3 separate regions of the Homo sapiens genome follow, and regions 1 and 2 are each linked to region 3. The links come from fine-mapping of genetic effects on gene expression. A gene starts in region 3. Each other region holds a variant in brackets. All regions are shown on one strand. Distances are between the middles of the regions. Region 1 overlaps LOC107986837. Region 2 overlaps LOC107986837. Region 3 holds the start of GPR85 (G protein-coupled receptor 85).

What was found. PIP is the estimated chance that this variant, and not a neighbour inherited with it, causes the effect.
Region 1: its variant is fine-mapped to the expression of GPR85 in blood mononuclear cells (TOPMed, PIP above 0.99). The same link has a PIP of 0.9 or more in T cells and monocytes after R848.
Region 2: its variant is fine-mapped to the expression of GPR85 in monocytes after Pam3CSK4 (Quach 2016, PIP 0.95). The same link has a PIP of 0.9 or more in monocytes after LPS.

The regions. Positions count from the first base shown.
Region 1 is chr7:113,137,613-113,147,941 of GRCh38, reverse strand. It overlaps LOC107986837, which reads right to left. Exons shown (of 4, transcript XM_047421162.1): 3 at 2,167-2,279; 4 at 1,501-1,902. The coding sequence ends at 1,816. Among named protein-coding and RNA genes, the nearest start is that of SMIM30, 24 kb to the right of the region's middle. The variant C/T (reference allele first, on the strand shown) is at 5,441.
Region 2 is chr7:113,107,472-113,117,800 of GRCh38, reverse strand. LOC107986837 reads right to left here. Exons shown (of 4, transcript XM_047421162.1): 2 at 10,002-10,046. It overlaps SMIM30 (small integral membrane protein 30), which reads left to right. Exons shown (of 3, transcript NM_001352688.2): 3 at 194-1,083. The coding sequence starts at 223. The coding sequence ends at 402. Among named protein-coding and RNA genes, the nearest start is that of SMIM30, 5.9 kb to the left of the region's middle. The variant G/A (reference allele first, on the strand shown) is at 6,140.
Region 3 is chr7:113,080,274-113,090,602 of GRCh38, reverse strand. GPR85 (G protein-coupled receptor 85) reads left to right here and starts at 3,776. Exons shown (of 3, transcript NM_001146267.2): 1 at 3,776-4,281; 2 at 4,494-4,611; 3 at 5,712-8,318. The coding sequence starts at 5,882. The coding sequence ends at 6,994. RefSeq lists a silencer at 4,031-4,090.

The DNA of each region.
Region 1 (10,329 bases), 57 kb before region 3:
TGGGTTCTCAATAAATAACAGTTAAACATTGATGCAATTTCACTTGGCACCTCTCACCTGAAAGGATTCTCAAGCATCCTTTCTGAGGGGATGTGGTATACCTGATTATATGTAGGTGCATAGGAGTGCAGGACCTACCAAAAGACCTGTCTTGTTAAACAAGACCACATGTTGCTGTTCAACTCAGAGTAAATACAAGCCATGATTATTAATCTGAGTAGACGGGGTTGTGCTACATTAACAAGCAAACCTAAAATCTCAGTGCCTCAAAAATATCAGGTTTATTTTTTGCTCATGCTACATTTCTACTGATGTTCCCTACCAACAGAAGCTGTATGAGAAGTTTTTTGGACCGAATTGTGTCCTCCAAAAGTTATATGTTGAAGCCCTAACTCCCAATGAAACTGTATTTAGAGATGAAGCCTTTAAAGAGGTAATTAAGGATAAATAAGGTCATCAGGTAGGGCCCTAATCCAAGAGGACTGGTTTCCTTAAAAGAAAAGGAAGGGACACAGGGATGCTGGCACACAGAGAAAAGGCTGTGTGAGGACATAGCAAGAAGGCAGCCATCTGCAGACCAAGGAGAGAAGCCTCACTAGAAACCAAACCTGCAGGTACCTTGAACTTGGATGACATCCAGCCTCCAGAACTGTGAGAAAATAAATTTTTCTTGATTGAGCCACCCAGTCACAATATTTTGTTATGGCAGTCCTGGTAAACTAATATAAGAAGTAAAAATGAAGTCACTGATGCCAATAATCCTATTCATCTGGGACGCTGAGCCTGTCCTGTGAAATTTCAAGGACCAGTCAGAGGATTGGTCCAATTTTCATCCACTGCCAATTGGCAAGAATGTGCTGAAGGGCATGGCACATGATCTCACTCTCCAATGAGACTCAAAGTCATTCCAAACAGTCATTCTTTCTATTAAGACAACTCTTCTTCGTAGAGTATTGAACTCTACCTGAGTGGGCAATTCACTAGAAGGCAATTCACCCAGCAGCAGGACACAGCAGATCTTTAGGAAGAAGGTAGCCCTGGTGGATCCAGATAGTCCTCTCCTTAAAAAGAGTTCTGAAATACTGCATTTCCTCAGTAATACAAGTCACAGATGCATTTGGTCTTTGACAGCAGCCCATTTCATCCCTCTCCTAGTCTATCTTCTCCTTACTGGGCTTCCCCATGCTTCCTCCAACTCTATAGGCTTTGCACGTAGACACACTCCTGGAATGTAAACTGAGGAAATGTTCTTATCTGTCTCACTGACCTCTTCCAGCTCTGGATAAATGAGTTATTTTTTAATACCAGACTTAGCAAATCACAACTCTGATTCAGGATGCAAAAAAAAAATGAATTCTGTCATTTAAAAACCAGTAAGTTATCAAAAGTCCCATATATTCTATCACTGTATTCATAAAAAAATATGACAACTTTGCATGTGTTTATACGTTACACAAGTCAGAAATATGATTTTAATTATGCCACAAAACAAAACAACACTGTTGATACAAGGTCTTTAATAAGGTTGGTTACATTGAACAACAAGAAACAAATGCTCTAACAGATTATTTTTAAACCATGTGGTATAATGGCAATGAGTTTATTATCATTTCTAATGACAAAATTAAATATGCAATTATGATTCCCATCCCTCAGTTAGATAGAAAAGGAGTCCCAATCTAAATTCTATGTGATGCCCAGAAATAAAGAATCTGAACAACCGCAGTTATCATGATGACTCTTTGGAGTTAGCTCCCATCTGTCTCTGACGAAGTCTCCAGTTAACCCAGAAGGCGTTATTGCCCTGAGACAGGCTCAGGAAACTCCTAAACCAAAGAAGCTACAGTTTTTGATTGAACAGAAACTCTGAGAATGGATTACCTGGGGAAGTGCCAAGCTGCCCTGAAAAAATACAAAATTTATCATCAAGCTATTGTTGGAACATCTCTACCCTTTGGGAAATCATCCTAAAATTGCTTCCAATCCCAGTGGCTGCTGTCTATCTCAGGCCTTCTACTTCCTAATTGCATTCCCATTTTGATCCCTTATGACTAGATCATTGAGTATCCCTATCTCCATCCTATTTCTTAGCCCTTTTCTGAACTTTCTGTTCCCAAGAGGTTGTCCCATGTGTCTTCTTGGTTCAGGTATTGTCTGACCACTCACAGTGAATTGACTTCTCTCCACAGTCTGCTGCTGCCATCTTTCCACAGCCTCCTCGCCACAGTGTCTTAGGAAGCAGTCATTCATCTTCATGGACCATCCCCACCTCATCTCTTCTGTGTAGCAGCAGAAACAAAAAGAAAGAGGATGTTTTGCTATGATTGAGTTTAGTTTGGTTCTTTGGGGTTCTATCCTTGGCCCTCTGCTCAATGAAGGAGTAGTTTCAGATATTTTCCCCTCATCCCAGACAGAACAACAGTTTCTGATTCACTTCATCCTCCCACTGTCTCCGCCACAACCACACAATACCTTTCAACAGTGCCTTCTGCCAAAAAGCTTGGCCACTTCTGCCCTGAGTCCTACAGGTAAAATTAGCATAAGATTCATGTTTTCTTTTGAACTTTGCTTGACTTATTTTTCTAAAGGTTTTCTAAACTCTCTTGCACTTAAACCCATGTTGTAATGCTGTTAAGTCATTAAAGCAAAGTAAAACAAAGAAAACAGCTTCAGGGTACTGCTTTTTAAAATCTTAAAGGATGAAGTCAAAACAAGAATTTCCAGAGTGGCTCTTTGGTGAGGAGGATCTGATGTCTCAAAACATATATACAGTCACTCCCTACCTCACAGAGAGGCATCCCATAATAGCTCTTCCTTGCTGTGTCTTTCCCAGCAGTTGCCTCCCCTGCAATGCTGCCTGCTGCCTTGCTTCTGTTTGACCTTTGGGGAGGTCTCTGCCCTTTTTCTCAGATGCACCTACTTCAGGTTGCCATCTCACAATGACTGAGGTATTTGCTGTCACTCATTCACCCCATGCATCCAGGAAAGTGATTACAATGCAGTTCTCTCTTTGAATAAATAATGTAGATCTGCTGATTTCTGAATTTACTCTGTGTGGAGGTCAGTTCCAGAAACACTCGTTGCTCTCTCTCCAAAGCTTCTTTTCTCAGATATGTGTAAATGATTACTGTTTATTATCTCTCTTAGTGAAGGAAAGAAAGAAAATAATGAAGAAACACATGTATTGATCACAGATCTGAAGCCAAGCAGTGTGTTACGTGTTTGCACATGCATTTTTATTTTTGCAACAGCTGAGTCTCTGATTTGAACACAGTATGATTCCAAAATCCAGATTCTTCCCAATACATCCCACTGCCATGCGCCACACAGAGCAGATGTCCTTTTAAGAAATATGGGAAGAATAAATATGGGATGAGTGGCTGTTGTGCTAAAAAGAATTGTCTGTGACTTCTGTTCCAGTCTCTCACTGACTTTGCCTCACCTAGTCTCTTGTTCATTTGTTTTTTACCTAAATAGTGCAACCAGAGGGAGCTTCCAGGGACAATGTCTGAAATTTCAGCCTTGTACCCCTCTACCTTTTCAAATAAAAGATTTGTAGTATGCAAGACTTTTCATTTAAAGTAAAATTGCTACATAGATGCCTATGCATAGTTGTGATAACAAATAGGAACACCTAGTAGATGCATTAACACAATATGTATTTGGTTTACTAGTGAAAGCATGAACCTCAGTAACTGGGCATTCAGTGGCTTCATTTTTGTAAGAGAGAAGAGAATGAGGAGAAGGAGGAAGTGAAAACTCAAGGCACTAACAAGGGATGGCCATCTTTAGGAGGGCAGACAAGGAAGCACAACCCAGTTAGTAAATCAAGGGTGGAGTTAGCACACTCAAGGAAGGAGGAGGTAGAAAGAGAAACAAAAGGGTACAAACCCAATCTGGGCCTAAGGGACAACCCCACCTAAACTGATTAGGGGAGAAGAGCTAGAAGGAACGATGAGAAACCAGCAAAAAGGAAGAGAAATTTTCCACAATGGCATCTGAGCTTACCTCTATTACAGAATACATACCATTTTCTGTTGAAAATCTGTTTACTTGCCTGCACCCTCCTTTAGATCATCAGTTTTTAGAGGACAAGGACCTTGTTTATTTAATTTGTGCAGGACCAGAGCCTTGTGCACTGTCTGGCATGTAGCAGAGGCTTGATTCATGTTTGATGGATGAATGAATCAAATCATTTTCCTTTCTTTTCTATTTCCTATGCATAACATCTTGGCTATGAGGAACTGGATGTACTTCATATATGATGGCACTTCAGCTGTCTGAACTGTCATCATATATGAAGTACACTCAGTTTTGAGGAATACCCAGGGTTCTTAGAGGTGCCAGGGGTCCTTGAAATATATAAACTGTGTCATTTACAGAAATGCAGCATACACATCCAACTCAGAACTGTAGCAAACACATCTAACGTCTAACAAATATTGGGTTTTTTAAAGTTTTTTTCAAGTTATTATTTGTAATAGGCATTTTATTTATTTTCAGGGGTCTTTATTTATACTTCTTTACATAATTTATTTTTATATAAATCATTTACATCAGACTCTATTCAGGCTTCTATTACATTATACTTCGATATATGTAAGACAGGTTTAGATGAAATATAGCTAATGGTTCCAAAATAGTTCCTGTAGACATGCTATATATTTTAAACTTAATTTAATTTCCTTCTTACGTACCAGAGAAAAAAAAAGTATGAGTTTTTTTTCCAAGCATCTCTCTTTCCTCATTATCAAAGTATTCATACTGAATTATTTTTAAAAGGCAGCATTTAGTATTCAATCAAATAATGAGAATGTGTTCCTTCCCAGTGGTTTAATAATAATTCTTGCATCACCAACCCTGAATATTCATGTTATGGAAATGTGCCCTACTTCTATAGATTTCATCACTGTCAGCTGGTGCCACAGCAGAACACAGGGACAGTCAGTCTTAATACAGTCAAGATTTCAGCAATTACCAAAGTGTCTTCTCTGACTTACCATCAATAATTCAACTTTTGAGGAATATAATGCTGAGACACAGGAGGCTGACCAACAAATATTCTGCTATTCTTTGGAAAACAGCCACCTAGCTGCATAAAATTGTGATGTCATTTGACTGAAGTCCTGCTTCGGCTCTATCTGCATGACATAAAGACAACTGATCTATTCAGGGAAGAAGTAAATCCATCAAGCCAGTTTTGTTTTGTTTTTTCGTCTTTGGTAAATCAAGTTATAGAATATATTTTTTTCTCTTCATTTTGCTGTTAGAACATAGCTTGTCAGTGGTCTGATATTCATCATCCTCATTTCTCAAAACATGTGTTAATCATGCTTTAACCTCGATTTTCTGTTAGTGGTGTGACCTTGGTCTAGTCAGTCCCTCTAAGAGTCAGTTTCCTCATCTGCAAAATGAGGAAGTGGGATTAGGTGGGGGTCAA[C/T]GAACTTTTTCTGCTCAAGGAGAGATAATAAGTATTTTAGGCTTTGCATGACATATAATCTCTGTTCCAACTACTCAATTCTGCCACTTTAATGTAAAAGCACCCACAGATAATACGTAAATGAATGAGCATTTCTGTGTTCTAATAAAATATTATTTTACAAAAACAGGCAGGTGGCAAGACAGATTTGGCTGCATGCAGTAGCTTGCTGACCTCACTCAAGTCTTTTTCAAGTCTGTGATTCTATATAATAGATACATAAAAAGCACCTAAAGATCAAAAGGCAGAATAAACCTACCAAGTCCCTCAATCATCTAAAATGTAAGGGGCATAGAAATTTCCAATTACAGAATAATTCCTCTAAAAAAGTCAACTAGGCCTAAGTGAACCCAGCTGGTTAACAGATTAACAAAGTTCATTCAACTCTTGCCAGTCAGTGTCTATGTTATTAGTGGCCCTAGCATACACAGATGCCATAAAATTAGGTCCAAGTCTCCAAGCTGTTTGTGTATGAGAAGAGAATATGCACATCAGCTTGCAAGAGTAATAGGATTTCACTCCAGGTTTTTGTTGCCTTGGCATTGAAGAAACTAATCTGCATTAAAAACAACATATTAGGTCACATTGTAGTTTCAAGCTTGCATCTCTGGGTAAAGCACCTATTTTATTTAGTAGCTCAGATGGTAAAAACCCTGAAAGGAAAGGTCATGTATTAATCCTTTTAGATGGTCTGTGAATGTCTACAGTTTCATTCTATTCTGCTACTATGAACTGCATGCACCCAAACACACATGCCATAGTCAGAGAATGCTAACCTGTGGAGACTGAGTAGACAACTGGTGCCGAAAGATGATTCTGTTATATTCAGAACAAGTTTAGACTATTTATGGGGTATAACAATTGCCCAAGAAACATATCCACAGTGACAAAGAATACCAGGATTAAAAAAAAACAAAATGAATGACAGTCTGTTTGGTTTATAGCAGGGCTTCTCAACCTCAGAACCATTGGCATTTGGGCTGGATAATTTTTTGATGTGGAGGACTTCTATGCACTGTAGAATATTTAGCAGCGTCATCGGCCTCTACATACCTAAGTTGTCGGGGTCCCCAACCATTTTGGCACCAAGGATCAGTTTTGTGGAAGACAATTTTTCCAAGGACAGGGGTGGGGGGTGGTTTCAGAATGAAACTGTTTCATCTCAGATGAGACATTAGTTAGATTCTCATAAGGAGCATGCAACCTAGATCCCTCACATGCACAGTTCACAATAGGGTACATAATCAGTCGCTGCTGATCTGCAGGAGGTGGAGTTCAGGCAGTAGTGCTCACTCTCCAGTCGCTTACCTCCTGCTGTATGGCCCAGTTCCTAACAGGCCATAGACCAGTACCAGTCCACGGCCTGGGAGTTGGGGACCCTTGCACTAGATGAAGTAACAGTAACTCCCATTCCCCCTTCCCCTGTCATGACAAACGAAAATGTCTCCAGGCATTGCCAGATGTCCTGGGTTGAGGGAAGGGGAGGGCAAAATTACAGCTAGTTGACAACGTCTAAAGTATAGAAAGTTTAGATATTTAATTGGTCACAAATCATCATCCATACCTCAGAAGTCAAATACTACTCCACACCAAACCTGATATTTACAAATGTGTTATAATGACTTTCCAGGTCCCTTCCAACTAATTCCAACTAATCACAAAACAACAATAAGAAGAAAAGTGGAGCGGGTATTGTCTGGGGAAGAATATTGCTGTCTAAGTCCTTTGTCCTAAACTGTTTCTAACTCTTGTTTAATAGCAATGTTCTGATTTCTAAATTATACACATAGGAGAACCAGACAAGACTCACTATGTCCAACTTCACTCCTAAATTATTGTTCATTATTGCTTGCCTCAGTTACTAGTGAAAAGATCACAGAGCCTTAGGCCATAGCTCAATGTCCTAAAACTCAGTCAGCCTATGTGAACTTCAGCTGTTGAGTTCCTGATCTCAAACTGTTGTTCCAGGACATTGGTCTCTTCATCTACCTTACCTAAACCTCTGCCTGCCTTTCCCAGTTTTCTGAGGGAGTAATGTCTGTACTCCAGACCTACTGCTGGGTCCCTACTACCTGCTATACACTTTCCAGTAAACCATATTCTACTCATTGAGACTTCATTGGGTCATTTCCTTCCTGCTGATATTTTTCCCCATCTGCTCACATATCTGTGTTCCAATTATCCCTGTTCTGTGGGGGTCTCATTGTTGGGTTCTGGGCATAAAATCAATTGCCTACTTATTCATTTTAAAGAAATAGTAATCATAGAAGAAAAAGGAGAGAAGGAACTGTGTGGTTACTTCAAAGGCATCCCATCTTGAAAAGCTTCCTAGTATAACCTGACAACCAGAACTCTATTATTAAAAGAAAAATCATCACAGGATATGCTCTTATGCTATGTTACTATCATATAAGGCTTTTCAACATTCTGAGTCATGCAGAAATTTCTACTGTTCTCTGATATTTTAGACAGAGAGAGCAAAACCAGAAAGATGTCAATCAGGTGATATGATCCATGGAATTGTTCTTCTATGCAAGTTAAAAAAAAAAGTAGACACAATAACAAGTTGAAACTGAACATGAGATTAATTTTAAATCTTACACAAAATCATGTATAACTTCAGCTGGGGAAAATAATGTTAAATCATGTTGAATTACAAATATAGGTATGTATATTCTTATACTCTTCTTTCAGTATCCCAAGGAAAGTTTGTCTATGCATAAAGGTGGCCAGGAAACGTTTATTTAAACACAAAGATAGTTTTTATTTCATCTCTGAGGTCAGGTGGAGAAGAAATTCTGTTTGTTTGACTTATGCTGCATATAATGAGCACCAGTGAAAAATACCTGAATTATAAACACACCAAACTGTGCAGTCTTAACCATGAGACATGCAGGAACTTCAAACACTGGCAGAGAGAAGAGCATGGGCCAGCATCCTGGGTGGGATTCAGGGAATTAGGGTTGGGGCAGACACAGAGGTAGCTCAACCAGCTGAAAGTACAGAGCAGGAGAAGTTAGCTGCTGTACAAATCCCAATGGGAAAGAGGCCTTCCCCAGTGCTCAGAGTGGGGTTACTTCCATAAAGACCTATAGAGTAGAGCTCAGCAGCAGGCAGAAACCACAGTAATGTTATGGTTCAAGGAGGGTCCATCTGATTGGAAGCACATCTCAAGCCAACAACTCAAAGGGCATAGATAGTGAAAGGGACAAGAAGTGTGGGGTTGAGAAGTTCTGTTGAATAGAATGGCTGTCAGGCCTCTGTTGAACATACTGGGTTTCAGTTCAAGGCTTGAGTCCCAGATGGCAACGTAAGTACAAATCAGGAAGAAGGCCAGATATCCAAGAAGTCAGTTTCCAGAATCCATTCACTGGAGAGGATAAGATTCTAATATTCCTAAGCCTTGCTCATGCATTCATGCAATCTTTTGTTCAACAAATGCATACTAAACACCTACCAAGCACTGCTAGACACTGTTCTTGGCTCTGCAGAGTCGATGGGGAAAAATAAACATAGCCCTGGTTCTTATAAAGAGCTTTGCTGGAATTGCTTTGAGGCTTAATTAGCACTGAATATATAGATTACAAAACATCACATCAGGGCTAATAGACACTACCAGCGCTAGCAAGATCAAATGGCCTGTGCCCTTGAAAAATTCTGCTCCATCCCAAAGGTAGCCAGTTGGGTAGCAAGAAAAGAATATAGCGGATGTGCATTCTGCCCACACCCACTATGAGGAACTTAGTTCTACCACCTTAAAAGCATTGCTAAATAATAAATGGAGGCCATGATGATGATGATGAGCAGTAGTAATAGTTATTTAATTGTTTTGGGATCCAGCCAAGAGCCAGAAATCATACAGGTTAAACAGAAAGAAATTAATATAAAGAATTGTTAATTTTGGCCGGGTGCAGTGGCTCACGCCTGTAATCCCAACACTTTCGGAGGCCGAGGCGGGCAGATCACGAGGTCAGGAGACGGAGACCATCCTGGACAACATGGTGAAACCCCGCCTCTACTAAAAATACAAAAAATTAGCTGGGCGTGATGGCATGTGCTTGTAATCCCAGTTCTTCGGGAGGCTGAAGCAGGAGAATCCCTTGAACCCACGAGGTGGAGCTTGCAGTAAGCCAAGATCGTGCCACTGCACTCCAGCCTGGCGACAGAGTGAGAATCTGTCTCAAAATAAAATAAAATAAAATAAAATAAAATAAAATAAAATAAAGAATTGTTAATTTTATAAAAGTTGTTAATTAAGTACTGAAATGGCAAAAAGAGAACTCTAAGGTATCATAGAGGTAGCAACCATTCCTAGAATTCGAGGAACAAAATGAAGATATTAGAATTATTAACAGTTAGAAGCCTGGAGCACAGGCCTCACAGACTCCTGAGGAGAATCTGATGGTGCTGAGTCCCTGAGCTTAGCGGGAGGAGGCATCCCATGGTTCTGGGTCCCAGATCTCTGAAGAAGGGGAGCCAGCGACTGATGCTGACTCTGTGAGTGTCAGGGAAACCACAAACTGGACTCCTCTGCTGCTATTGGAACAAACTGCTGCTGCAAGACTGAAGAGGCATTGCTGGGTGATGCTCATGGGAAAAGAAAGCCAGCAGAAAGCAAATAGGAAGAAAAACAAAAACAACAGCAAAAAAGAAAGAACATGTTCCATCTACCTCCTCCTGCTTACAATTTCCTGTAGTATCCCCAACTGACAGGGTTTAACCAATCAAAAAAGCAGAAACATGGTTTGCAGATGCCCACAGCCCATGTATCAAAAAGCAAAATGTAGACAGTTGGGTTTGAAGCTGAGAGATGTTAGTTTAATAACCAACCCAGTAATCAAAGGCAAATT
Region 2 (10,329 bases), 27 kb before region 3:
GGGAGATGAACCTCAAATTACTGTCTTTAACGTCCCTCTGTTTTTCCACCTATAAGATGAGGAGATGGATTGGAAATGATTCATAAAGTATCCAAAAGATTGGCTGGCCTGTTATTTGTCATGTGTTCATTTTGTCATTTGAAAAGGGAGGAATTTTTAATGGTTCCTTTTTGTTTCCATGTTTAATTTCTAGGAACCTTCAGCCCTCAAGATTCCAACATCATGACCTCAGTTTCAACACAGTTGTCCTTAGTCCTCATGTCACTGCTTTTGGTGCTGCCTGTTGTGGAAGCAGTAGAAGCCGGTGATGCAATCGCCCTTTTGTTAGGTGTGGTTCTCAGCATTACAGGCATTTGTGCCTGCTTGGGGGTATATGCACGAAAAAGAAATGGACAGATGTGACTTTGAAAGGCCTACTGAGTCAAACCTCACCCTGAAAACCTTTGCGCTTTAGAGGCTAAACCTGAGATTTGGTGTGTGAAAGGTTCCAAGAATCAGTAAATAAGGGAGTTTCACATTTTTCATTGTTTCCATGAAATGGCAACAAACATACATTTATAAATTGAAAAAAAAATGTTTTCTTTACAACAAATAATGCACAGAAAAATGCAGCCTATAATTTGCTAGTTAGGTAGTCAAAGAAGTAAGATGGCTGAAATTTACATAAGTAATATTTCATAATCTTAGAATTCTCTCAAAGCATGTGAAATAGGAAGAAGGAAGTTCTTGCCCAGAATCTTAGGAAATCACCACTGTTCGGTTATAATCACTGCCTCCTGAATCGTTGAGGAGTCTTTTAAATTAGATTTTTGTTTTGTTGTCTCCCAAGTTAATATTATATTTAGATATCAGAGAGTCAGGCAAAAAGGAAAACTTTTATCTCTAGGGAAAAAACATTTAGAAAAATGTATTCAGTGTATCTAATACTGAAATGCGGAAAAAAATTTAATGTTAAAAAAAAACTATAGACATTGACATGGAAAAGAGATTTAATGTTTTGAAAAAAAACTTTATATTAACTGAGTAACATCCTCCTGATGAGAAGTACTATATTAAATATAAACCCATTATGTTATAAGTTAATGTTTCGTGTCCATTTCTTATTTGGGGCTGTTTGTATCCATTGTGGATTTTTATATGAGCTAAGTGGAGAAGGGCAGGATGCCTTGTGTTAACTGATTGCGGTAGCTTGAAGAGACATAATGAGAACTGGGCAGCATTAAGGTCAGAGAAGCCCCTGATAGAAAATCTAGAAATATAGAAGGAAAATGAAATGGCTTAAACTGATTTGTACGCCAGCCAAACGAAATATCCTCTCTGGCCTAGCTACTTAAAGTGTCTTCAAGCCAGCAACATCACCTGGGGCTTGTTAGAAATGCAGAATCTCAGGCCCCACCCAGACCAATTGGATCAGGAACAGCATTCGTTTCCAAAGCCCAAGTTAATTTGTATGCACATTACAAATTTAAGAAGACTGCCAACTTGCTTGAGCCCAAGAATCATTCCAGGCACTTGATAAGACTTTTTGATTCCCTGGTCTTTCTCCTGGTTGTATAGCTGTGAGATGGGGCCTGGAACTCCATGTCTAACAAGGGTCCTCAGTGATTCATTTGATTCTCAAGTTGTAGCCAGCATAAAGTAGTCTAAGGAAATCAAACTTTAGGGTCACACTGGAGGTAAGTAGTGAAATTTTTTCCTAAAATGCATTTTCCAATCTGTAGCTCTCCAGATGACATTGGGAGCCTCATTTTTTATCCAAAAACAGGCACTAGCAACCTAAAGTCCTGTTTATGGTGTAATTCTAGAGTGAGCTGACTTGGCTTGCATGAAAGTTTTGGTTAAAGTGTACAAGGAGTGAAGAAGCATCACAGAATAAAGACATGGAAACTGAATGCACTTGTTTTTGTCACAGCTGTTTCGATTTTTTGCTAGAGGAAGCACTAACAGTCTTTATTCAAATTAATTGGCAGTTAAACATTTCATAATTAATATAGCTTGATTGTACCTGCATTTTTTTGTGTGTTTTAAAGAAGGAAAAAGGAATGATGCAAGTTATAGAACAATTGTCATCTCTTATACTCCAGCCCATTGGGTGCTGATGTAGAAAGGCTGCTGCGGCTTCCTTGCATGTCAACTTTTCCATTGGGATGGGAGAAATCAAACCTAAAGTACATTTTAAATCACAGTGCAGTAGTCACTTAGTCACCTCCAGGTACTGTTTTTAAAATGTTCAAAATAAGACTATAGGCAAACATTCTTTGGTCAACGTGTATTTCCAAAAGTGCCTAGAAAGAATTAGAAAACTGCCATTTCCCTATTTTCCCCTTAAAAGTAGAGAATTGTCTTGAGGTGGCATGCAGGAATTTTGATGGATATGATGGGGGAACACCTCCTCTAAAAATAGCCTCATTTCTCATCTATTTAGGTTGGATTATATGGCTTTGCCTGAAAAGAACAGAACCCTTATGGTGGCTCTTAACATTTTTAGGCCACCAGTTCCTTTGAGAATCTGATGAAAGCTATCATCTTTTTCTTTAGGAAAATTCCCATGCATGCTGACATTTTTAGATTAGTTTCAGAGCTGAAGCCCATCCAGGATCTTTCCAATTCTAAAATTCCTTGATTTTCTATGAGGGATAACACCTGCTGTGGAGCAGTTACAGCAAGAATGGCATTAGCAAATATTCTGATGCCCAGCACAATTTGTAGATATCTAGTAAATGCCTTGTGCATGTTAGCTCACTGAGTTGAGTTAAAAATAGTTGAGATCAAGTGAAGAATTTAAGGTCCTTGCAAATACTTATATTTCTGTTCTCTGTAGTTTTAATGTAACCAGCTTAGTTCTCTAATGCTAAAAATCAGTACATTTCCTGCATCATTTCTCTCTTAACTGCTTTCATAACTCTTCTTTGTCATTAATTTTTAGAAGTTTGTGATATATCTCGGCATGGATATATCTTTGGGTTTATCCTGTTTGGGGTTCACTCGGTATCTGAGACTTACAGTTTTATTCTTTTTTCCCAAATTCAGGAAATTTTCAGCCATTCTTTCTTTTTACAAAAATTTCGCTCCACTTTCATTCTCCTTTTCTTCTAGGACTCCAGGGACCCAATATTAGATATTTTTGTTATAGTCTGATGCATACCTAAGGCTCTATTTATTTTTTCAGTCCTTTTTTTCTCTTATTCAGATTGGGTAATTTCTAGTATTGTATGCTTAAGTTCACCGTTTCTGCTGTTGTATTTTTTGTTCAAAACTTTCCATTTTGTTCTTTGTGTCTTGTGTTTCTTTGTGGAGACCTGTTTTTTCATTTGTCTCAAGCATGTTTGTGATTGTCACTGAAGCACCTTTTCATGGCTGCTTAAATCCTTAATAATCCTAACATCTCTGTCACCTCGGTGTTTAGCATCTGTTGATTGTCTTCTCATTCAAGTTGAGATCTTCCCAGTTCTTAGTATGATGATGATTTTTCTATTGACATTTGGACATTCTGGGTATTATATTTAAAAGGCTGTGGCTCTTATTTAAATTTTGTATTTTAACATTCCTCTGACACCACTCCTTCGTAGAAAGGGAGGATGCCTCCTCCTTCCTGCCAGATGCAGGTGGAAGCCTCATGACTGCTCCTCCTATACCCTCCACTGACACTGGTGATAGGTTGCCTTGTTACCACCAGGTGGGAGTGGAGTCCAGGCTACCCACATGGTCTTCATGGGTACCAGCGTAGAAGAGGGAGGTTCTTACTATCAACTGGTGAGGATGAAAGTGCCAGCTCCCCACCCAGCCTTCTGTGATACCTCAGTGGGGAGCCTGGAACATCTACAGCCTGGTGAAAGTGGAGGTCTTGGCACTCCACTCAACCTTTGCTGATGGTGGAAGTGGGGCTACAATTCTAAAAGTTTTCTGTTTCACTAAGCTACACCTTTCCTATACCTTTAAATACTAGAGAGAATAGTCTTGTTTGGTTTCCCACCCCCCCACCCTTTTTTTTTTTCGGTCTAAGCCCGTTGGCCTTTCTGTGCTACCAACTTCTCCAGTTCTCAATCTGAAACAGGAAGAAAAAAAAAAAAAACCAGCTAACTCACCACTTTGTTGTTCCTTTGCTCTTGAGGTACCCAGCTGTTGTGCCTTCTTTCTGCCTTTCAGAATCCTATGTTTGTTTTATACATAATGTCCAGGGTTTTTAGCTATATTTAGTGGGAGGAAAAGGAAAAAAGATGTCTACTCCATCTTTCTAGAAGTATAAGTCTTGGTGCATATTTAAAGAGGGAATTTTCTGAGCTACTCCAGAGATGGAGAGATAAAACACCAGGAAAGTGATTACTTCAAGGTATTTTACTCACAGACTTTTGTCCCGTCATCTCCCACATCCACCTTCCCCTCTTCACCCATCCAGCATATTGTTTATTCCTACCTTAACCCAACAGTCTCAACTAGGGAGTGAGACTAACCATCAAGAAATGCAGGGACGTAGATGAAGTTTGAGAAAATGGGCTGTATTCATATTTTGTCTCAGCATTGAGACTGCAAGTGGGAGCTTCTTGAAAAACTGATGTGATACCAATTGTGCCAACTAGCCAGGTCCAGGAAATCTCAGAAGCTACACCTCACATGCACCTGTGTCCTGCTGGGCTTTCTAGCTCTGTACCAGCTTATCAAATGCCATTTCCAACCTTGGATATAGGAATGGTAATGCAGCTATATAGCCTGCAGCACATAATGAATGGAGGAGAATTTTCTGCATATGACCCATCTCCCAGCCAGCGACTCTCATAACAGTCTCTTCAGTGGTACTATAATAGAGGCTAAGGGTCCAAGCTGTGGAATTTAACAGACGTCTCTCCAAGAATTAAAATGTCATAATGGGCAAGTCACTTATTTTCTCTTAAATTGCTATCTCCTGTCTGTTAATTGGATGTAATAATAGTATTTCTCCACTCCACCTCCTAGGTAGATGAGAAATATCTAAGGTAGTGTATGTGGAAGGGTTGGCTTGCTGTATGTTATTATTTTTAGGAGTATTTAGAGATATTTCCTAAAGAGAAGGGGGAAGAAACTTTACAAGCATCAATTTTGAATTTTTAAAGAGGATATCTTAAAAGTTATATGAACAAATCCTATATCAAACTTTAATTTTAATTTTGACATTTTCCCAAGTCCTAACAGGCCCTTGAAGATGATACTCAGTCTTTGTTTTTTCTTATTATAGTCCTTCCCAACACACACAATTCTAGCTTACAAACTGATAAAGCTCAAAGACACCTGTGAAGAAAAGAAAATTCGACTACCCTAAAATTTTTTTAAATCTTCTGGTTTGTACCTCATGCTTTCGAAGGGGAAAAAAAGGAAAGAAAATAATTGATTATTTTTTAATGATTCTTAATACGTTAACCATGGGTTCCTTCCTAGGTAGCATAACAGAAGGTTAGCAGCAACTGCCCAGGTCATTTAAGGAGAGGCAAGGAATTTGGTTTTTCCTGTTCAGGAAAATAGCAGATCTGGTCCATATTCCACCAAGAAAAATACTTACAAATCTCATCTCATTAGAAGTCATGAAATTATAAACTACATATAATGTGTTTAATGTTTGTTTCCTATGGTGGGGAGTAGAGAGGAAGCCCTTATCTTGATTTACTAATCCCAGACATGATTTTCACTCATAGGTGAAAATGGGGCCAAATCAATAAATAAATTTGCAGAATAGCATGTTTATTTTTTTTCTAATTTTCAGTAACTTCATTTTTCTAAATACTTTCTATAACTGACTAATATACATCTAACATCTAAATGCAAAATGCAGAAGACCAGAAAAATATATGATTGCTGCAAAAAAAAGATAATGTCGTTTAATTTCTCATTGATTTATAAGTATCAGAGCTAAAGTACTCTTCTCACATATTTCCACTGGATCCATTTTATGTGGGTGATTAAAATTTTGAAAATATTAGTTGGCACTTCATAATATGAAATGAAATTATGAAATTTTATATACAAGAGGGTTAATTATTTTTAAAGGGCTAATCATGTAGCACTTTGTTAAACACAGGGATTATAAATACTGTATTTCTCAATATTAATCAAGATAATTATGCTCTGTTTAAATGTGCGTAAATCACTTAACAAAAGAATTTAGAAGCAG[G/A]CATGAGCACCAAGAGCAGAAACTATACCATTTTCTATTTCAGATTATTTGTCACAACAACCCTTTCATTCTGCCACAAAAATTACCAGGGCATTTCAATACCAACATGAAACAGTTTTATAGCCCCTGAGATGGCATGTGCTTAACTTTAACTTGTTTACTCAACAGTTTTTGAGAAATAACCAGTACTCTTTAGAAATAAAAATATTTATCAACTATCAGGCAAATGATCTTGAGCCAATAATTTAACCTCCACAACTTTTTCATCTGTAAAATTTTTTGTCAGTAATTTCTAAGAGGTTTCCTATTGATAGAATTTTGTGGCTTCATAAGGATTTTCCTAATTTCAAAAATAATAAGGTATAATGTGTTAAAAATATTGTAATTATCCATTTTCAGTTGGCAGCAGTGAGGAGCTGATTTTTTCTTCGAACTCCTCAGTGACAGTAGTCTAGTCATTTGGTACATTTTGGATTTCAATTCGGTGAAGCAGGGAGGGGCAGCTCATTTTCTGTACTGAACAAGTGTGATTAGGGATTGTCTCAAGAAGGAAGAATGAAAACAAACCATGGCCCTGCCACTCTCACTCACAGCAAACAGCCCACCTGCTAATTGATGTTGACCTGGCTCTATTCAGGAATAAACAACCTTTTGGTTTCATAGGCTTGGTCTTTTCTGGCATCACCAGTGAGACTCAGGTCATAGATACCATCTTCCCAGTGACCAAGACAGACACTTGAGAGGATGGGTGGCACACATCACACTCCCCGTCTGATGTATCTTTTAAGTCCTGTGGAATCCACCTCCAAATTATCCCTACGATTCGCCCACTTCTCTCCATCCCTGTGGCTCCTACCCATGTAGACCATCATGAGGACGTGGATGACATCCGCAGCACCCCCCAGCTGGTCTTCCAGCCTCCTGTATTAGTCTGTTCTCACACTGCTGTAAAGAACTACCTCAGACTAGGTAATTCATGAAGAAAAGAGGTTTAATTGACAGTTCTGTAGGCTGTACCAGAAGCATGGATGGGAGGCCTCAGGAAACTTACAGTCAAGGCAGAAAATGAATGGGAAGCAAGCACGGCTTACCATGGTGGAGCAGGAGAGAGAAAAATAGTAAATGAGGAAGCGCTACACACTTTTAAATGACCAGATCTCATGAGAACTCACTATCATGAGAACAGCAAGAGGGAAATCCGCCCCTATGATCCAATCACCTCCCACCAAGTCCCTCCCCCAACTGGGGATTACAATTCAACATGAGATTTGACTGGGGACACAGAGCCAAACAATATCACCTCCCATCTTACCCCTCTGCAATCTTTTCTAAACACAACTGTGGTAAACTTCATAAAACAAATCTGATCCCATCTCAAAACTGTTTAAGGGATTTCCTGTTTTTATGAATTTTTTAACCTTAAGAAAGCACTGTGTGATCTGCCCATATTCCCTCCCCTTATTTCTCCAGTCTCATCTATGTCTGTGATCCCTAACCTACCTTGCATTAAACTTTTTTCTCTTTCTAGAAAGCACCAGGTGAGTTCTCTCTCTTCCTCTCTTCTTCCTTTTACCTTCTACTTCTTCCTTCTCCTTCCTCCTCTCACTGTCTGTTATTCTCCTCACTTCTCCCCCACTCTGTGTCTGCATGGTTCTTTCTCTGCCTGGGGTAGTTTTTCCAGTTCACCTAGCTTATTCCTGTCTCTTTAGGCTTGAACCACACTTTTTTAGGACAACTTCCCTGACCTGTCTGAGTCACATACCCCACTGTATGCTCACATAGCATTCTTCACCTCTCTTAACAGGTACATATCACGCTGTACTGGAATTTCTGTTACTTATCTTTATCTCTAAACACCCTCACCCCTGTCTCAGGATTCTAAGCTCTGTGAGTGCACACACTGAGTCTCTAATTCATTGTATTTCTGCTTCCAGCATAACTCCTGGCATGTAGAATTTGCTCACCCAATTCTTATAGACTAATTTGTGATATAAAGTTAATGTAGCCCAGGATCCACAGTGGATCATGACATCCCCCAGTGAGCCTGGCTGTGCCCACACTGTCATCAGTACAGCTCTCCCAACCTTTCAGATGTTGCATGGGACAGGCCTGAGATTCTTTGTGATATGTATCATTTTCTTGGACATTAAATTATATTTATAAAACATGATTTTAATAAATATTAAGATATAGGCTAGTTAGTTGAGTTAAATGATTATATATACTATTTATAAAAGCTTGCATTGTATGGACATATTTAATGATCTGTATAACATTTAGTTCAGAAATGATTCATCATTTTGAATGATGAACCATAGGATGATCTTCTCCTTTGCCCTCTCTCGTTCTCTTACTCATACTATACTCCAGCAACAACAGACTGCCTGCATTGGCAAAATCAAATGTCTTGCCATGCTTTCATGCTCATGGAACATTTACAAATGTTGTTTTCTTCATGAAACCTTTTCAAAAAGGAGTTAATGATATCCATCCTCCAGAGTTCACAGTGCATTGTTTTTACCTGTTTTCATTCAACCCTTTTTCACCACTAGCCCTACTGTCCCCTCCCTTCCCATTCACCCCCATATCTGTTGCCTATATCATAAATTTGTTAAAATCAAATTGTGTCTTTTTATCATTGCAAGTACTAACACAGTCAGCTAAAAGAGGTTTCAATAAATATTTGTGCATTAAATTTAGTTCCTAAAACATCCTGAAGAACAGATTAATAGAGTAGCATTGAATAAACAAGTCTATATGCTGACAGAGGTATAATATTAAAGCAATATTATTGCTTTTTAATAACACCGCAGGTTTGGAGCTTCCGTTTTACATACAGTGTTACCTCTGCCTTTCTGAAAGCTGTTGGCAACTCAGATTTACTCTAAGTGTTATCCATTGGAAAATATCCATTATGAAGTAATCACAAGACAGTTTTCAACATATTGCAGTCTTAGAGAATGCTATCACAGGTGATCTCAAAGCCCACATTTCATTCAGCTGAAGGCTGTATCAGAAAAAAAGGGGAAAAAAAGGAAAGAAAAGATACCCAGAGCCCAAACTACTTCTTCATTTTCAAAGATGGCTCTCAAATATAGCCTCAAATAGAATTCCACTTCTCACCCTCAGTCACGGCGAATGGATTATAGAATAGCCAATCCATGATTCCACTCTGCTGTTGTGTTGGGGCTTCCACCCAGGCCCTATGACTTTCTGAAATCCATTCAGTGTCTAGGTATGATTGAAGGTACAAGAAACATTAAAAGTCACTTTTTAGAAATCAACTGCTTCATTCAAATGTTTTGGCCTCTTAAAAAATAGTCTTAGAGAAAAGTGGACTTTATTGATGCTGCCATTATTTAAAGCATATTTGGAATTCATATTTGGAATATGGCATGCCCTTTCAAATACTTCCAATAAAAAGAAGTCTTCATGTTTGAGCACTTGGCTTTTGGAATGAGCCAGAAGCAATTCAGAGCTGAGCCCTGTATGTGAATGAGGTGAGTGAGAAATAGAGCAACCACTCGTGAGCTAATTATCCAATTGAAAGAGAGCTCTGAGCTTCATTTATACCTAGATTCTAAGGACTGGGGAGTTTAAATTACTTGGAGAGGTAAAATTACATCATTTGATAAAATAAATGGTGACTTCAAAGTAACAAAAAATTTTTTTCTGTAACTTATAAACCAAATTAAATGGTTATTACACTATCTAATGTATTGCTTTTTAACTAAAAAAATCATAACATTAGATAATTAGTATATATGGTAATGATATATAGATGACATTAGATAATGATATGGTATATATGGTAATGATATATAGATAACATTAGATAATATCAGAATGACCCATACCTTACCTGTCCTCAGCAAAACTGTTTTCACTCTTCCAAGCCATCTTCCACCTGCATAAATTTAATGAAACTGGATTGGAACATGCATACCATTTTGTCTTCTAGTTTTGTTTGTCTGTTTAACATGTAAGTGTTTCACGGATATTTTAACAATCAAGTAATATTCTACCCCTTATATTTACCATTACTTATTCCAAAACAATACCTTTAATAATGCTGGACATGCCAATGGTATTTAACATCTTGTCATTATTGATAACACTATAATAAGCTTATTATAATACTATAATAAGCAAAATAGATAATTTCTACCAAGTACCAAAAATATATTCAT
Region 3 (10,329 bases):
GCAGGAGAAGGAAATAAAGGGTATTCAATTAGGAAAAGAGGAAGTCAAATTGTCCCTGTCTGCAGATGACATGATTGTATATCTAAAAAACCCCACTGTCACAGCCCAAAATCTCCTTAAGCTGATAAGCAACTTCAGCAAAGTCTCAGGATACAAAATCAATGTACAAAAATCACAAGCATTCTTATACATAAATAACAGACAAACAGAGAGCCAAATCATGAGTGAACTCCCATTCACAATTGCTTCAAAGAGAATAAAATACCTAGGAATCCAACTTACAAGGGATGTGAAGGACCTCTTCAAGGAGAAGTACAAACCACTGTTCAATGAAATAAAAGAGGATACAAAGAAATGGAAGAGCATTCCATGCTCATGGGTAGGAAGAATCAATATCATGAAAATGACCATACTGCCCAAGGTAATTTATAGATTCAATGCCATCCCCATCAAGCTACCAATGACTTTCTTCACAGAATTGGAAAAAACTACTTTAAAGTTCATATGGAACCAAAAAAGAGCCCGCATCGCCAAGTCAATCCTAAGCCGAAAGAACAAAGTTGGAGGCATCAAGCTACCTGACTTCAAACTATACTACAAGGCTACAGTAACCAAAACAGCATGGTACTGGTACCAAAACAGAGATATAGATCAATGGAACAGAACAGACGCCTCAGAAATAACGCCGCATATCTACAACTATCTGATCTTTGACAAACCTAAGAAAAACAAGCAATGGGAAAAGGATTCTCTATTTAATAAATGGTGCTGGGAAAACTGACCAGCCATATGTAGAAAGCTGAAACTGGATCCCTTCCTTACACCTTATACAAAAATTAATTCAAGATGGATTAAAGACTTAAACGTTAGACCGAAAACCATAAAAACCCTAGAAGAAAACCTAGGCAATACCATTCAGGACATAGGCATGGGCAAGGACTTCATGTCTAAAACACCAAAAGCAATGGCAACAAAAGCCAAAATTGACAAATGGGATCTAGTTAAACTAAAGAGCTTCTGCACAGCAAAAGACACTACCATCAGAGTGAACAGGCAACCTACAAAATGGGAGAAAATTTTCGCAACCTACTCATCTGACAAAGGGCTAATATCCAGAATCTACAATGAGCTCAAACAAATTTACAAGAAAAAAACAAACAACCCCATCAAAAAGATAGTTAAAGTTTTAAAGAAAACTTTAAAAAGGCTCTTTTTCATATACAACTTTAAATTTTGGTAACAGTTGAGAGCACCAAAGACACACGTTTTATGCTTTAAGCAGAAGACATGTCATTTGAAATGAATTACTAAAAATCTTTTATTTAGAATGTTTATTCTAGTCTATTATTCTCTGCAATTACCAAGTGTTATTTCCTGACACACACTTTCATGTAAACAATGCACAGAAAAAAACACTGTTTTTGCTGATCATGATACTATGCATCAGTTGGCAAAAATCTGAAATAGATTAATTTTGAAAGCAAGGTCATTGGTTTTTAAAATAAAATGGTATGTACTTTTTATAAGAACCAAATTAAGCAAATTATATCAGTTTTCCTAATACACTGATCAATATAGTACATGTAATATTCCAACAGTTTGTAAATCTTCAGAACCCTTCAAACCCAAGGATTAGAGCATATAGTTTTGTTGTATTTGCTTTGTTCTTTTACTCTTAACCTGAAAATCAAATTTTCTGGGTTTGGTGATGTAGGGGATAAAAAAAAAAGAAATTAGTTAAGACCAACTAAGCCTATGATCTAAACAATTTGAAGCAATAACTTTACATTTGAGAACTTGTAGATGATATGAAACTTTTGTCAGCTATTAAACATATTTTTTAAAGCCCTGCTGATGAAAGATGTAGCTTCCAATGTTTTCTCCAGTAGAGTTAATGAGCTAGATAGAAAATATCTCATTAATTTCTTGAGTCCCCTTGTGAGGCAAGAAAATGACATTCTTATCCAACAGCTGGAAAAGCTGAAGAATTAGTGGATGTAACTGTGCTCAACTGCAAAGGAAAAAAATAGCTTTACTATACCCTGAGATGTGGATATGAAAGAATATTGCATACACATATACCCTCTCCCTTATTTTTAAGGAATCAATATCTGCTTAAAGAATAAGACTAGTTAAAACCCTTGGATCTTGGCCCTATAACTTTTGGCAGAGTATATTACTGCTTCATGGCCTGGCAGTGCAGTGACTCTTTTAATTTACTTTAAAATAGCTTTTCCCTAATCTGTACAACCTAACATCTGACCAATCATGAATCTTCAGCAAACTTAAGCCTCTTATTCCATACATTTTTTAAAACTGTAAAAATTCAGGAAATAACTCTTTGCAAAGTACATTGAAGCATTTATTGGGAAGCAAAAAAGCACAAGTTGAAGTGATTTGTAGTTTCATAAAAACGAATTTGACATTTTACTTAGAAGTTGCAAACCACCACATGGTTTTGAGTTTTGAATTCATTTGCTTTGCAAAAAGTGGAATGTTTTATTTGAATGGAAATGCCCTCAAGTTACTTCCAGCATGGCTGTAGGATTGATTTTTCTAGGTTAAGGGAATGCCAAAGTTTAGTGCCTTGTGTATATTCTTTTCGAAAAAAACAAACTATTATCCATGTATTTAAATGGACGTAGGAAATTCAAGAACAAATCAGGGAAATTTAACATCATTTCAGTATTACCAACATAGGGCTTTGTGTAACGACTGTGACATCAAGATAAGGCTTTACCTCGGCTCATCCAATAGAAATACAGTATGTAAATTAACCCATATTATCTGTATGCTGATTGGCCTGAGTTCCCCTGAATGTCACAATCTCACCACCCAGCAATGAGGTATTTTACTGCTGTCTCAAGATCAGATTATTACTGTAGAGAAGATTTTTATTTTTTGTTTCATTAACAGATTATTATAAAGCAAAAAGCATGCAGAAAAAGAAGCAGACGTTTTACATTGGGAATTAATGAAAGCGTGTCTGCTAGTTTTGGGTAGGAGAACTGGGAAGTTGTTGCTTAAAATTTTATATCACCTCCACAAACAAAACTCTTCGGAAATGGTAAAATAAGAAAATGCATGATTCTAGAGGCATTCCTAAGCACCCACGTGTCAGGCTTTGTGGTGTCTGTGGTATCATCCGACCGTTTGGACTGGTGTAAGTTTTACGTATTTGTTATATTTCTAGTATTTTTCATCTGTAATAACAAAGGGGAAAAAAGGAAACTCGTACACATAACTGCTTTGACATCACCCATCATTGGTCAGCGGAACTTGTAAGAAGGGAAAAGGAATACTGTTGCTTGGTGGGGTGGAATGCCAGGAATAGCCATTTAAACATTTTATAAGCCTGATTCTTTAGTGACATCCTTTAAGGTAGACTGAATGTAAATCATATTGTAGTTGTCCTCTGAACTTAGCTTTCTCCCTACTTTTACGCATATTTGCGTGCATTGGAGAATAGAAGATGACTAACAAAGAGAGAGCTGCCCTAACGTGCCTTCCCTTCTTCCCCATTGAAAAGATTTTTAACTGTGGGAAAAAGATAAATAAATAAATAAATAACTTTTTTTCTTTTTTCCCATTCTTTTCTTGTCTTTTTCCAGCTAACCTGCAAATTTAAAGGTTAGCTGGAGACATCACTTAAAAATAAATATATAAAAGAAGCCTCCGGTGGTTTGGACCACCCTAAAAGAAAAGGGAAGAAAGTGTCTGGGGAAGGTTAGGGTTCCGGGAAGCTGAGGGAGGGGGCGGGCGTCACGGGCACTGTGACTTCCTCGTGCGCTGCCTTTGGGAAGAGGATGGGCCTGAGGTCCTGAAAGGGCCTTTCCAGCCCCCCACTACAAATGCGGGGAGGGAAAAGTTCAGAAGCAGCCACGAAGGGACAAAAGCTTAATGCTGCCAGTTGGATTGGACAGGGCAGTCAATAAACCCAGCCAGCTCTGGAGTCAGGTAGGGGTTCCTGCTGGTTCCACAGAGGCTGAAGCAGCCCCGCCGCCGCCCTCGCCACCGCAGCCGCCGCCGCCGCGGCCCCTGCGTTACTGGGGGAGACGGTGCCGCTGCGACAGGGGAGGACGCGGCTGGAGCTCAAGGAGGCTCCAGCGCGCAGGCGCCGCCGAGCCCTGCCTGGATGCTCAGTCAAGGCACTAAGGCAAAAAAAAAAAAAAAAAAAACAAAAAACAAAAAAAAAAAAAAAAAAAAGAAAAAGAAAAAAAGAAAAAAATCAGCAATTTATAGAAAGAAGCTATAGTCTGTCGGGATATCCAACACCAACAGGTAGGAGGATATACTCTTGGTTAAGTTTGGGGGATGTGGGGGAATGCACAGTGTTGATGAAACTGCAGGTTCACCGAGAAAGAGCCCTCCCTCAGGTTGTGTGTGTGTGTGTGTGTGTGTGTGTCTCTGTGTGTGTGTGTGTGTGTGTGTGTGTATGTGTTTTGTGACAATAAACTGCATAATGGAAGTACATTCAGACAATGCATCTTCAGTAGGGCTTACTGAGAGCTCCATTTCTGGAAAGCCTTACAAGACTGAGGAATATCAGACTGCGAATCACCGGGAACGGTTCCTTTGCAGCACAGAAGCAATCTCTCTCCCCATCTTCGCGTATGTAATGCATGTCTCTCTCCCTCTCCCCCTCCTCCACCCTCCCCCCATTATAAATCCAGGGGTGGCGGATTTCAGGTTTCGTAATGTTGCATGATGCGATCGGTATTTACCCGAGGATGTACCGGTGGGGAAATTAAAATCATCGAACGCAGTTTTGCCTGGGCTTCCACCAGCATATTCCGGGCCAGTGAGAAGTGGCAAAAGAAACACGCTTGGTGGGAATAACAGAGGAAGCCGATTTCCCTGGTGTGGTCCAGGCACCTGCGAGACAATGTGCATTTTGTTTTAAAAAGCAGCCACTTGTGATTTGCAACAAAGGTTATCAGTGTAAATGGGAAAGGCTTAATTGCCCAAGAAATACAGGTTCATGTTATATTCATTTGAATCCAGGCAGCCAAGGTTTACAAATGGAAGTGCATTATTCCTCTGGGTGTGTTTCCCTGTCCAATATTTACATTAACCATTTTAATAATCATGTGGGCTTAAAAGATTTGCCAGAAATGGGGGGTAGGGTGGAGAGGGAAAGACAAATGATTAAATCACATCAAATCTTGGGACAAGTAAGTTCCTATTAATTTTGAAGTTAATTTTGAAATTTTGCTTTAAGATGAATCAACAAATACTCTTATGCAGCATGAATAGTGGCACTTAAGATATATTTTGCACGGGTTCTTTGGACCCACATCAAACAGAGAAGCTGCCTGTGAAACACTGACAGATACTAATAGATCTCAAATAAATGTAGGTAGTGTCTCTGCCTCCTAATAGCAATCTTGTAGATTCCATTGCAATTCTAGTGGTTAATTCCTGGACTGGCATATTTTACAAGAATGGGACATTTTATTCCTTCTCTCCTAAAGTTACCCTATCAAATGTATATTGTCCAAAATAGGGACATTTTAAAATTCACTTAGCTTGAAAAACTAAACAAGCCAATTCTCTGAAATCTCGAGCAAAAATATTTAGTAAAGCAAATATTAGTATTCAAAATTAAAACTTTATTTGCTTCCCCATAAGTGAACAGCTTTGTTAGCACTGTCTGACATCATTGCTTGTTAACTTAAGAACTGATAGGTTTTTTTTTTTTTTTTTTTCAGATATTCTGATGGCAAAACAAGTGGAAGAAAAGAGGAAGCATGACTGCAGATCAGATCAGTTCTCTTTGTGGATTATATTTTCAGTAAAATGTATGGATCTATCTTTTCCTTGTTCTTATATCTAGATCATGAGACTTGACTGAGGCTGTATCCTTATCCTCCATCCATCTATGGCGAACTATAGCCATGCAGCTGACAACATTTTGCAAAATCTCTCGCCTCTAACAGCCTTTCTGAAACTGACTTCCTTGGGTTTCATAATAGGAGTCAGCGTGGTGGGCAACCTCCTGATCTCCATTTTGCTAGTGAAAGATAAGACCTTGCATAGAGCACCTTACTACTTCCTGTTGGATCTTTGCTGTTCAGATATCCTCAGATCTGCAATTTGTTTCCCATTTGTGTTCAACTCTGTCAAAAATGGTTCTACCTGGACTTATGGGACTCTGACTTGCAAAGTGATTGCCTTTCTGGGGGTTTTGTCCTGTTTCCACACTGCTTTCATGCTCTTCTGCATCAGTGTCACCAGATATTTAGCTATCGCCCATCACCGCTTCTATACAAAGAGGCTGACCTTTTGGACGTGTCTGGCTGTGATCTGTATGGTGTGGACTCTGTCTGTGGCCATGGCATTTCCCCCGGTTTTAGACGTGGGCACTTACTCATTCATTAGGGAGGAAGATCAATGCACCTTCCAACACCGCTCCTTCAGGGCTAATGATTCCTTAGGATTTATGCTGCTTCTTGCTCTCATCCTCCTAGCCACACAGCTTGTCTACCTCAAGCTGATATTTTTCGTCCACGATCGAAGAAAAATGAAGCCAGTCCAGTTTGTAGCAGCAGTCAGCCAGAACTGGACTTTTCATGGTCCTGGAGCCAGTGGCCAGGCAGCTGCCAATTGGCTAGCAGGATTTGGAAGGGGTCCCACACCACCCACCTTGCTGGGCATCAGGCAAAATGCAAACACCACAGGCAGAAGAAGGCTATTGGTCTTAGACGAGTTCAAAATGGAGAAAAGAATCAGCAGAATGTTCTATATAATGACTTTTCTGTTTCTAACCTTGTGGGGCCCCTACCTGGTGGCCTGTTATTGGAGAGTTTTTGCAAGAGGGCCTGTAGTACCAGGGGGATTTCTAACAGCTGCTGTCTGGATGAGTTTTGCCCAAGCAGGAATCAATCCTTTTGTCTGCATTTTCTCAAACAGGGAGCTGAGGCGCTGTTTCAGCACAACCCTTCTTTACTGCAGAAAATCCAGGTTACCAAGGGAACCTTACTGTGTTATATGAGGGAGCATCTGTAAATCTTTAGCCTTGTGAAAACTAACCTTCTCTGCTGAGCAATTGTGGCCCATAGCCATATTTTGAGAAGAAATTCAAGAATGGAATCAGCAGTTTTAAGGATTTGGGCAACATTCTGCAGTCTTTGCAATAGTTCACCTATAATCCTATTTTAAATCTCAGAGTGATCCTGCTGACTGCCAGCAAAGGTTTGTAATTAAGAAGGGACTGAACCACTGCCCTAAGTTTCTTTATGTGGTCAAAAACTAGATAATGAAAGTAGCAGGTGCTAAGTATCAGTGCTAAATGCTCTGTATGTCACTACATATGAAAAAACATCAAAAAACAATTAGCATTGGACATCTTAATAAATTAAGTTGACATGAGGTAAATGTGTTGATAAAAACTAATTTTAGAAGTTTGAAGACTTTAAAACATTTCATACTACTATTGTTTTGCAAAGACTAAAATATTTGGGGACTTAAAGTACTGTAATCCACTAAAGACGTGCCAATGAATTATTGGAATATCACACTTTAAAAACCGCCTTGTAAGTTCTGGGGAGCATTCCAAAGCAGTATATTGGTTCCAATTAGAGTTTACTTTTTTTGTATTAATACATTGCTATTTCTAAATACCACTTTCCTCATCTACTAGTAAGATTGCTAGCATTGAACTGTATTATGTGGTTTTTGTTGATTTGGTATAAAGTTTTTCCAATTCATTTATATTTTACAAATGCTAGATATTGGTCTGGGAGGCAACATTAATGGTACCAGCCTGTCACAACTGAGCAGTTCTAATAATGCAGAATAAATACATGTTGCCTTAAAGGGTTATCTAGTATCCTTCATCTTATTTAGCACTGGAGCAAATAGCCAAGGGAAATCAAATCAGTAACTGGTCATGGTCATGCATCTAAAAGTGCATGGAAGATCATTTATTACTTTTTCCTTTTTTCTCACATGGTTTGAAACTTAAAGTGCACATCACTGAAATAATGAGATTTTCTTCTACGGTGTGCTACCCTTTCTAAACTGTTCTAAGAAGCAGGCAGTTGATGTATGTTTATATTTTAAGTCAGCTGTCAAGGGGAGACCACAGCCTTAGTATGACATCCTGCACAATTTGTGAAGCATTTATTCTACTGAAGGCACAGTCTTGTTTATACTTTCTGCACATTCAGTGTATTGGTAATTTAAATTATTTCAGTTTTAACTTGTGAAAGCTTATATTATGATTTCTGGTATTTTAGAAATACATTAGAGTCTGTGAGTCTCATTCTTTAAGATACAGATGTGTGAACTTCAATATAAAGTTGCATTTGCCAAAATTTACCCGTGTAGCCTGTTAATTTTCTTGAAATAAGTTTTACATTTTTGGCACATAACAACTTTTTTTTTAATTTGGGAGGCAAGCACAAACTAGGAAGACTAGCTTTATTATGGTTTTGCTTTTTGATTCTTGTAGCTACTACATTCCAGACTGGAAATGTATGAATGATAATCAACATAATGCTGATAAACTGACATAATATTATCTGTAAAAGCATTATTTGGTAGTTTATTATAATCATCCCTCTATTATTCTTAAATGCCAGTAGTATTTAGAGATGTGTACCTGCTTAGTTAATTGGCTCAGAATTTTAATATAAACATCACACTTTAATTTGGAGCATAGTACCATAGAAATTTGGGGTTCTAAATATACAACTTGTAAGAAGAATGGTTTACACTAACATTATGACAAAACTAGAAAAAGTTATTATTTTTGTTTGCTTTCTGTTGTTTTGTTTATTGGTTGGTTTTTGTGAAGTTTATTTTTTTTTGGTATTTGATAATTAAGATTAGGAATCTAATAACACAGAATTCCATATTGCTATAGTACTTCTGTAAAGAGAATATCAATATAAATAAGGAAAATAAATCAATGAAATGTTTCAATGATATATGCAACTATTCAGTTTTGCTCTTATAAGGACAGCTCAAGCCATGAATTAGTGAGCATTCTGACCTCATTTTTACTTTACACCAAAGTTGATTAGATCTGAGACAAAATTTAATGCACAACAGTGAGTTGGATCTAGCAATAAAGTCTCCTTGGTACTGAAATCATTATCTAAAATAAAGGAAATGTTATCAAAAGATGTTCTGATAACATTGTGATTGTAACTCAAAAAAATTTATAGTAGAAACGTAATTGCAATGATGATAATAACTAACTCTGCTTAGAGGTTCAAATATCACCAGCAATCAGTAAAAAATTCAGCAATAATCTTAAGGCCAGAGAGAACAGGTTCACCATTGCATAGACAAGAAAACAGATATGGGTTAAGAGTTGGGGACTGAGGAGTCAAGAGCAACGGCCACGTGAAGCTGCCTGACTCCACCTAGCTATTTGGAATAACCGATTCCCACAGTTTTGGTAAGAAACCAGCCCCAGTAATCAGTAAGTCAGGCTGAACTGCAGTGACTTTTATTTAAGCCTACTCCTGACTAACTTGGCATTTGCAGGTCAAGCAGGAAGCAGTTGACAAGACACATCCTCAGTGAATCAATGCCATTTGTAACTCAACTGGTAACAGTAGTAATCATACAAAATAAAAACCTGCTTCAGTGTCTTAATGACCAAATCACATTATCTATTTTAGCACTCATTCCAAAATTCAGTATTTAATGTAATTAATCTTTAATCCATAAAAATACATCCCCACTGTAGCGGGGCAGGGGGTGTCCAACTTCCCTGTGAGACTGATTATCAATAATAATGTGTCTCCCTCTTGGACTGAGCACACATCTGAGCTGAACGGCCTTTAAATTGTTTTTCATAATAGTGGTGATATGTTTGCGTGGATACGTCTGTACTATTTCATCTGGTTCATTTTGCATGTAATAGATTTATCTGTGAGATGCCTGGCTGAAGCTAGGCATTCAGTCTGTGACTGTGGAATCCTATGCAGGTATTAACCAAGGCAGAAAGAGGTGAGTAACTTGCCCATTTCTCCACAGAGACCCCATTTAAATAACACAAAATTGACCACAGTGATTAGATGAAAAAATTATTTGTAGATAGGATAATCTATTGACTGAATTATCTTTTGCAGATATCAGCTGGTTGGATTTCTCACCAGGATTGTCTATAGAAGTTAACTGATTTATGATTGTTAACACATAAATATGGCCACTTATCCATTTGCCTCAACTTCCATGGATGCTACCTGAATTGTTTGTTCATTTATTTACTTTTTCAACAAATATGTGCTGGGTGCTGGGCTTGGTGCTGAGTGCATAGTGGAAAACAAAGCAGAACAGTCTCTCATTTAGATTTCTTAATCTAGTGGGAAA